2 separate regions of the Homo sapiens genome follow, and region 2 is linked to region 1. The links come from fine-mapping of genetic effects on gene expression. A gene starts in region 1. The other region holds a variant in brackets. All regions are shown on one strand. Distances are from middle to middle.

Region 1 (4,392 bases):
ACCACTAAGACTGCTATGATCATACTACCTCCATCTGGAGAGAAAACCTAAGGCTCAGGAGGGTAAGTGAACTGCCCGAAGTCACAGTAAGTGGCAGAGGTGGCCTGAAAGACCAGGCAGCAAGCCCAGGCTCCCACCCTGCCTCCATCTTGACCTGCCATGTCCTAGCCGTTTGCTTGGTGGTTACTCAGCACCTGGGACCTTGAGGTCCTCATCCAAAGAGAAAAAAAATTAAGGTCTCTATAAGATGACTTTCCATGTATAAATATTAGAACCCTAAGTCTTAATTATAAAACCTCTGTGCAGTGGGCAAGGAGACCACCCATGTCACAGGAGAGGCTGTCAGGGTCTGGACAGCAAAGCTAGCTGAGGGGCAGCAGCCAGTGGTCACTAAGGGGCTGGGAACTTGTTAGTCTTCTCTTAACAAGATGGTTGCCAGCTTTTGTTGGACAGGGCCCTGACTCAGGTGTAGAGGATCTGAGCTGGAGCCTACATCTGCTAATGTCAAAAAAGTCATTAAAAACTAAATGACCTCAAAGCACCTTAACTTCCCAGAATCTGTTTATCTGTAAAATGGATCTAATACCTAACTCAAAGCATTGGGTGGAAAGTTAAATAAGACACCAGATATGAAAGCTTCATCCCTGCCCAATTGTAGAAAGGTTTCTCTGTGACCTACTAATTTGCACATCAATGCTATTATACCCAGCCCCCTCCTAAACCCATGCTCCTTTAAATATGACCATCAACCCACCCATTTATGTTCATAAATTCACTCCAACCTTCTCTGGCTCCTCACCCCATGGCTGCCTACTTTACCAAGTTCCCTGATAACATGCCCTTAGGTTTGGTTCTGAGATTGGAATGATTTTTTTTAAATCTTCTTCCCTCTATATTTTTGTATTACTTATTCAATTTTTTTTCTTTTTTTTTTTTTTTTTGAGACGGAGTCTCATTCTGTTGCCCAGGCTGGAGTACAATGGCGCAATCTCGGCTCACTGCAGCCTTTGCCTCCCAGGTTCAAGTGATTCTCCGGCCTCAGCCTCCCCAGTAGCTGGGATTACAGGCACATGCCACCATGCCCGGCTAATTTTTGTATTTTTAGTAGAGACGGAGTTTCACCATGTTGGCCAGGCTGGTTGTGAACTCTTGACCTCAGGTGATCCACCCTCCTCGGCCTCCCAAAGTGCTCGGATGACAGGCACGGGCCACTGCGCTTGGCCTTGACTATTCTTAAAATATTCTTGCATGCACATGCAGACACTGACCTACACATCATTACCACCACTACCACTCAAACAGCCCACCTGAGGGGCCTAGCTGGCAACCCCAGGATATCCCCCACTGAACACTGTGACCCTGAGCATGCCACTGCCTCTATAAACTTCAAGTTATCTCATCTGTGAAACAAGAAGTCAGGCCAACTTGACAAGACTCAAGCCCCTTCCACGGGTAGCATTCTGAGAAACCATGGGTATGGTGCAAGAGAAGGACAGACAAACATACTCTGTCCACCATCCTGCCTAAACCTTTGTGTATGAGGCTGACAAGGGTTACAATGGGTGACATTCACAAGGAGAGAATCTCTCCCTTGTTCCTTGCAAAAGCCCTGGGAAGTAGGTGCACCTATCTCCACTAAACAGATGAGCAAACTGAGGCACAGAAGCCATTTCTCTCTGCCTCCTACCCCACCCACGGCATCACCAGCACTGTTTTAAACACCATCCCTTCACTCGAGTAACTACCATGTGTCAGGCACTATGCTAGACCCTGGGAGCCTCGGGCACAGTGTGAGTAAGTCCCAAGTGGGCCCTCTCTGCTAGAAATCAGGGTTGCAAATACAGACCCCACCTCATCCTCCTCCCTCTCTCCTCAGAGGTAGGTGCTTCAGAGAATCCTAACATTCATGGAGCACCCAAGCCCTCTCATAGGAGGTTAACACATTTCTACTCATGTAATCCTCATCACAGTTCTCCGAGTTAGATTCTATATGTTATGACAGATGAGGAAAGTGAGGCGCAAAGAGGTTAAAAAACTTACACCAGGTCATCCCACATCCAGGTAGTGGCAACCCAGATTCACACGCAGTAGTTATTCTGATCCTAAGTATGTGCTCTGGACCGCTACATCCTAAGGCCTCCTCTTTAGGGACTGATCTCCCAAGGCTCAGAGAAGAGCCCTGTCTCCAACATGCAGCAAGCCTGAAGCCCAGTCGGGCGGTGACCAATCGTCCTGGTTTGGCCAGGCCCGAGGGAGTTCCCAGGACGCCGGACCTTAAGTTTTAAAACTAAAACGAGTTGGTCACCCTAAGTCCAGGACTCCTGCCACTTCCCCAGAGCAGGAGTGAGATCTGAATGGAACTCCTTCCTCCATGCGTAACCCAGAGGGGCTGACGGTGGAAATCCCGTCCCTCCCCTACTCACTCTCTGAGCCCCAGCCTCCCAGGTCGGACCTCTGGGCCACCACCCCTCACCTCTCAGCCAGCGCCCGCCAACGGTTTCAACCGGCCGCGGGGAGCACGTGGACTCGCCGCCGCCAGCCCAGCGCCGCAGCTACCTGCCTCTCAGGCTTCGCGGTGCAGAATTCGCTTCTGAACCACCCAGCGCGCCTGCGCACCGCGGCCACGCCCCCCCCAGTGGAAGTGACGCCAACGGAAGCAGGAAGGCGGTTCCGGCAAGCCAAGGGGGCGTTGTCGTGATGATTCCGCGGCCAGCGGATCGCTGCGAGTGGCCTTGAAGGCAGCTGCTGCAGGTGAAGAGTAGGCGGCGGGGCAGAGAGCGGCCTCCGAGGGTAAGGTGGCCGGCCTTGCGAAGGCGTGCGGGGCTGGCGCTGGTGGGAATGGCCCGGAAGGGAAGGGAGGCCGGGCGCCCGAAGGTGGCCCAGAAGGGCATGGACCCACCGCTCCTTCCCGTCTCTGGGCACTCGAGGATACCCGGGGGGTTGGCGGCTCCTGCGAGAGTCAGCGAGCATTTGCTCTGTGCCGGGCATCACAGGGGACGCGGACTGAGACCCAGACGGCCAGGTTCCGGGCCTGGGAGCCGGGCCTTCTCCCTGGTGCAGCTTCCTCGGCCTGGAAACCCCACCCGCGCCCTCTCATCTCCAGGCTTTGCCCGCTGGAAGCCAGCCCGGCCCGCCTCCGCTACGCGCTGCCCATCTCTCGGCTTCTGTTTCCTTCCACGCTGTAGTTGAGAGTAGCGCTTAAGACGACAGAGCCCACAGCCTAGCTCAGTTTCATTACGGTGTGGCCTCTTTGTGCCTCAGCCCCGCATCTGTAAAGCGAATGTCATAGCGGCACCTGCGTCCCTGGAACCTTGTCGTATTTCATGAGTTGGTGCATGTAAATCGCTTAGACTAGTGGCTGCCACTTAGTAAGTACTCAATAAACGTTAGCTCTTCTCAGCCCTTAAAACAGGGTCTGGCACACAGTGGTGGTCACTAGGTGTTTGTTGCTTAAATGAATGAATGAAAGTTGAGTGGAGGATGCACAGAGTATTGTGAGAAACCTTCACTCCCAAGGTGTGTGTATATGGGTGATAAGGTTTCACTCTGAAAGTGAGCAGTGTTGGGCCTGGAATAGAAGGTGTATTAGTTTGCTAGGACTGCAAACAAAATACTGGGTGGCTTAAACAACAGAAATTTATTATTTTCTCACAGTTCTGGAGGTTAGAAGTCCAAGATCAAGGTGTCTTCAGGTTTGGTTTCTTCTGAGACATTTCTCCTTGGCTTGCACGTGGCTGCTTTCTTGCTGTGTCCTCGCATGGTCTTTCCTCTGTGTTTTCACATCTCTGGCGTCTCTCTTTGCATCCAGATTTCCTCTTTATGAGAACGTCAGTCAGGTTGTATTAGGGCCCACCTTAATGGCCTCATTTTAACTTAATTACCTTCTTACAAGCCTGATCTCCAAATACAATCACATTCTGGAGTGCTGGGGGAACAGTTTAACCATAACAGAAGGAATTCACAGAAATGGACAAGGAGGGAAATACTTTCCAACAGAAGTGACAGAATGGCCAGGAGGCTTAAAAGCAGGGTGCTCAAGATGTTTTTTGTGTTCAGGGCACATATGTGTACTTCAGTCTTGTTTGTGCTCTCGTACTGTTTTTGGGTTTGGTTGTTGTTGTTTGTTTGTTTGTCCTCCTGAATACTCAAAGAAAGTGAGCCCTCTCATTTTTTTAGTCTGGCAAACTTAACTCACATTTCAGCATAGATGTGTCTTCCAGGAAGTTTTCCCTGACCCTCCCTCCCAAATTAATTTCTGCTTCCTCCATTTAATAACTTTGGTACAGGGCTGGGTGCGGTGGCTCACGCCTGTAATCCCAGCGCTTTGGGAGGCCGAGGCAGGCAGCTCCTGAGGTCAAGAGATAGAGACCAGCCTGGCCAACATGGTGAAAC
Region 2 (4,392 bases), 22 kb before region 1:
GAACTTCAATATCATGTGTGTTTTGAGTCCAAGTCAGGCAGGCAGCTAGCTGCCCAAACTGAAACGGGTGGTCTCTGCAAGGACATTGGGAATGACCCCTGGACCATGCTTTGCAGCCAGACCCCTGGAGCAACTGCACTTACAGCTAGTCCTTCCTGCCACTGACTGCAGACCCTTCCATGACACGGACCATCAGAGTCACCATCATTAGCTTTGCTTTTTTGTCCTTGTAGAGTTGAGGGAGCTAAAGCCACCTCCAGCCCCTGTGGGATGGATGCTCTGCTGAAATTCCTGAGCAGCACAGCCAGCCCCAGAAGTTCTAACTCTCGAGAACCTGGGGTAATGGATGGCAAGGACAGAAATGAAGACTCTGCTGCAGTGCTAAGGACACCTTTTAACTGTGTCACATTTGCCAAACTTTGCCTTAAATGTATCACGGTAACTGATAGTTTTGACGGAAAAATAAAGATCCCTGATATGGCTTGGCTGTGTCCCCACCCAAATCTCATCTTAAATTGTAGCTCCCACAATTCCCATGTGTTGTGGGAGGTACCCGGTGGGAGGTAATTGAATCATGGGTACGGGTCTTTCCTGTGCTGTTCTTGTAATAGTGAATAGGTCTCACGAGACCTGATGGTTTCATAAAGAGTTTTCCTGCACAAATTCTCTCTCGTCTCTCGTCTGCCGCCATGGAAGACATGCCTTTTGCCTTCCGCCATGATTGTGAGGCCTCCCCAGCCACGTGGAACTGTGAGTCCATTAAACTTCTTCTTCTTTATAAATTACCCCATCTCAGGTATATCTTTATCAGCAGAGTGAAAACAAACTAATACAATCACAAACTGAAATTCCATGGCGCTTGTAGAACATCATGTGACTCTCACGGGGTGGCCCTGCATCTCCCCTGTGCCCGGGTGATAACTGCAGAGCACACCTCCCTCTGCTCCCTGGAGTGCTGGCATAGGAAGACTTCGGGACTGGACTGCGGAGTCACAGCTCTGTTCTGCTTTTGTCCCTAATTAGGTATGTGGTCTGGGTTGTTTCACTTTCTCAGTTTTCTTTTGCTTTCCAGAATGTCTAAAGCTTCTCATGGCCCAAAAATTGTTACTGGTAACGGTAAGAGTAGTGACAGCACCCACTGAGGGGATCTATTGTGTCTAATAAGGGAACATGCTGTGTCCTTTACGTGAATTAGTTCATTCACTCACAACCTTTACTATCCCCATTGTCCAGCTGAGAAAAGTGAGGTTCAGAGGTTAGCCAATAAGGGACAGAGTCAGGACCTGACTCTGGGCCTGATTCTGAAGCCTGAGTCCTACTCATTCTGACAGTGCCACTCAATGCCGTCACTACACTTATATGTGGCACATCGCCTAATAAGCACTGAACTCAAGATGCTGCTTGGCTTGGCTGGCAAGTCCCAGAGTGAAGCTGCTCCGTGGGCTTCTGGGCACTCAGAGGCTCAGACAGGGCCTCTGTCCTCCCTCTCATCCCTCCTCTCCGTCCTAACCCTTTAAACTACTTGTTCCATGTCCCAGACTTGCTTTTGTGGGGAATTGATGAGATATTAATGAAACTGGCTAAGGGGTGATCTGTACCAGAGGACCAGCTTTTAAGGGTCTTGTGGGCAAAACCTACTGAACCATCCAAGAGGTGGCAAAAAGGCTGTCCTACAGCACAATCAACCAGGACTTCAAACACTGTTTCTGAAAGCATTCAGTCCAATCAGAGCACTGGAGCAGCCACACAGCTGCACAAGAGATTCAGTCTCCAATGAGCTATTTCCCTGTGCCTCTCGCTTCCAGTCACAGGCCATGCTCCTGAATCCAGCCACTGACAAACTCGTCTCTTTGGCTGAAGGTAGATGGGGCCAGTGTGGATGGGTGAACCTGTTACAGAGAAGCCTCCTCTATAGCACCATACTTCTGGCTACAGAAGGATTAACACATACAAGACTCTTGTCATGACCATTCCCGCAGTTCACATACACATTCCAACAACACAAAAAACAAACGCACAAAACATCTCTAATCAAAAATGTGTAGAAATAGCTGGGCACAGTGGCTCATGCCTGTAATCCCAGAACTTTGGGTGGCCGAGGCAGGC[G/A]GATCACTTGAGGTCAGTTTGGGACTAGCCTGGCCAACATGGTGAAACCCTGGCTCTACTAAAAATATAAAAATTAGCCAGGTGTGGTGGCGGATGCCTGTAATCCCAGCTACTCAGGAGGCTGAGGCAGAATTGCTTGAACCTGGGAGATGGAGGTTGCAGTGAGCTGAGATTGTGCCACTGCACTCCAGGCTGGGCGACAGAGACCCTTTCTCAAACAACAATAACAACAAAGTGTAGAAATGATGTGGTTAAAATGAATACTTTTTAGTCTGATCAAAAGAGGAATTACTTTTTTACTTGTTGCTGCACTACATTGAAAAAAATTTTTTCACACAAAACTATTTTGTAAAGTTCAGTAATTTTTGCCACAACAAATTTAGAAGTTTGGACCAGAATATATTTTATTTTTCTCATAAAAGTTATACCAAAAATATATTTTCTTAACTTAAAAATACAGCTTCAAAAAGCAAAATTTGAGTTGTTAGAATTCATTACACATTTTATAAACAGCAGTGAAAGGAAGAAGTCAGCAGAATGGATTCAATTTTTAAATACACAAATGTTCATTTCACAAGCTTGACTTTGTCCTTTAATAACTTAAAGGTAGGGTTCTTGCTGATTTTCTTGTTAAAGATGACCAGGAGTTCCTCTTCGGATCTGTGATGCTCATCTGTCACTGTGTAGTACTGAGCTAAAACCTTCACAAAGAAAAACATCAAATGAGTGTATTTGACCTGGAAAATTATCTTAAAATGTTCTGTCTTTAACCCAGAAATAGAACAACAGGAAAAAATAAAAGAAACCCAGGAGCAAGCGACACCGGCGTGCTCTCCTTGGAAAACCCAGGCGGCAGCCACGTGCAGGGGTTTGGCCATGTGTGAGTCATCCTGAGAAACAAAGTGAAATAAAGGAGAAGAAACCACTGCTCTGGGATAGGCAAAAGAGAGCAAATATCTAGAAAATAATTTCCAAACAATAAAAATTAAATAAATGGAGCCTCTCTTCAAAGTCTTATAAACAAGCCCAAAATCTAGGCACCACCCTGGCTGAGGCTGTGTGGGGCTTTGGAGCAGCTTGAAAATCACTGAGACACACACACAGATTTTCAGTGTTTTAGGTGAAAAAAGAAAAAAACAAACAATTGTACATTTAGAAATAAGTTCTCCCCAGCTGTTAGACACGTGGGTTTGTTCATATGCCATACCTTTTTCCTTAGCTTTTTGATGGTTATTTCATTGTCTGGGGCCTGTTTCAGAATTGCTTTAATAGTTCCCTTCCAGTTGAATTTACCTACAATATAAATAATAATATTTAAGACATTTCGTTTTGTTGTACTACGAGAAGGGTAAAGAAACAACTTCTGCAACACCTATTTGCTTCCCAGGAAATGAGCTAACCCTCTAATGAACCAGACTCCATAGCACCAAGCATCTGTTCAATTCCAATGTCCTAGAAGCACTCACTACCCTTCAAAGGACTGGCTCTTAAGAGTGAGCAGGTGCCCATGTGCTATTGGCATGACAAACTCCTAGATAGAGTTGTATGTAATGAACTCAACACAGATTTCCTAAGCATCCACTAAGATCATGGGGCTGTCCATGCACAGTAGGGAGGACAAAGATGAGCAAAACAGCTTGACCTGAAATGAGAGAGAGGACAACCACAAACTATTATAGAGGAACTAAAAATACTCATCTAGGGAACTTCTGCTTCTGGGAAGATGGAGTGGACACACTTTCCCCTTCCTCCTGCCCACTACAACTGAGAACCCTGAAACTATATAGGCAAGAAATGTAAGAAGACTCTGAAAGGTAGAGACCAGCTGGGACCTCGGGGCCTGCAGAGCAACACGGGGTGAGCTTCTTGCTGCCTGTACCCCAGATCTGGAGTTGAAGAACCCAGCAACCTGAACACCAACAGCACAGACAAAACAGTCCCAACAGAAGCCTGCTCTCTTGGCAAAGGACCGGGAAACGGCAGCCTAGCAAGACAGAAAACTTTTGTATAATAACAACCCTACTGCAGCCACACATCACAGAAAAAACGGTGGCTCCACCCCCACCCGCACCAGCAAAAGCCGAGTGGCGAGCCTGAGTTCTCTACCCTCGCAAGGCTGTAATGAGGGACGGTGTCACAGAAGGCCAAGCAGGAATTCAGGGGTCTCATCCACACAGGCCGGTCATGAGGCTGCCCCTGCTGTGATGTCAGTGGAACCTGCACCAGGAGCCCTGCCCGGCAGGAGCAAGAAGTGGCCATCCTCAGGTGTGGATGGAGGCTGAGTAG

Direction of the effects. Positions count from the first base shown, and alleles are read on the strand shown. Sizes are in standard deviations (SD) of each study's normalised expression.
For the expression in monocytes of the gene that starts at base 2,592 in region 1, allele G in region 2 goes with a lower level than allele A (moderate effect, 0.59 SD a copy in Quach 2016).

Evidence for each region. PIP is the estimated chance that this variant, and not a neighbour inherited with it, causes the effect. A credible set is the group of variants that fine-mapping cannot tell apart.
Region 2: its variant is the best candidate, but not a certain one, in a credible set for the expression of LYAR in monocytes (Quach 2016, PIP 0.80).

Annotation. Positions count from the first base shown.
Region 1 is chr4:4,287,563-4,291,954 of GRCh38, forward strand. LYAR (Ly1 antibody reactive) reads right to left here and starts at 2,592. Exons shown (of 10, transcript NM_017816.3): 1 at 2,474-2,592. It overlaps ZBTB49 (zinc finger and BTB domain containing 49), which reads left to right and starts at 2,689. Exons shown (of 8, transcript NM_145291.4): 1 at 2,689-2,790. RefSeq lists enhancers at 541-1,079, 1,080-1,617.
Region 2 is chr4:4,265,217-4,269,608 of GRCh38, forward strand. LYAR (Ly1 antibody reactive) reads right to left here. Exons shown (of 10, transcript NM_017816.3): 9 at 3,314-3,399; 10 at 2,485-2,807. The coding sequence ends at 2,673. Among named protein-coding and RNA genes, the nearest start is that of TMEM128, 19 kb to the left of the region's middle. RefSeq lists a silencer at 4,185-4,362. The variant G/A (reference allele first, on the strand shown) is at 2,107.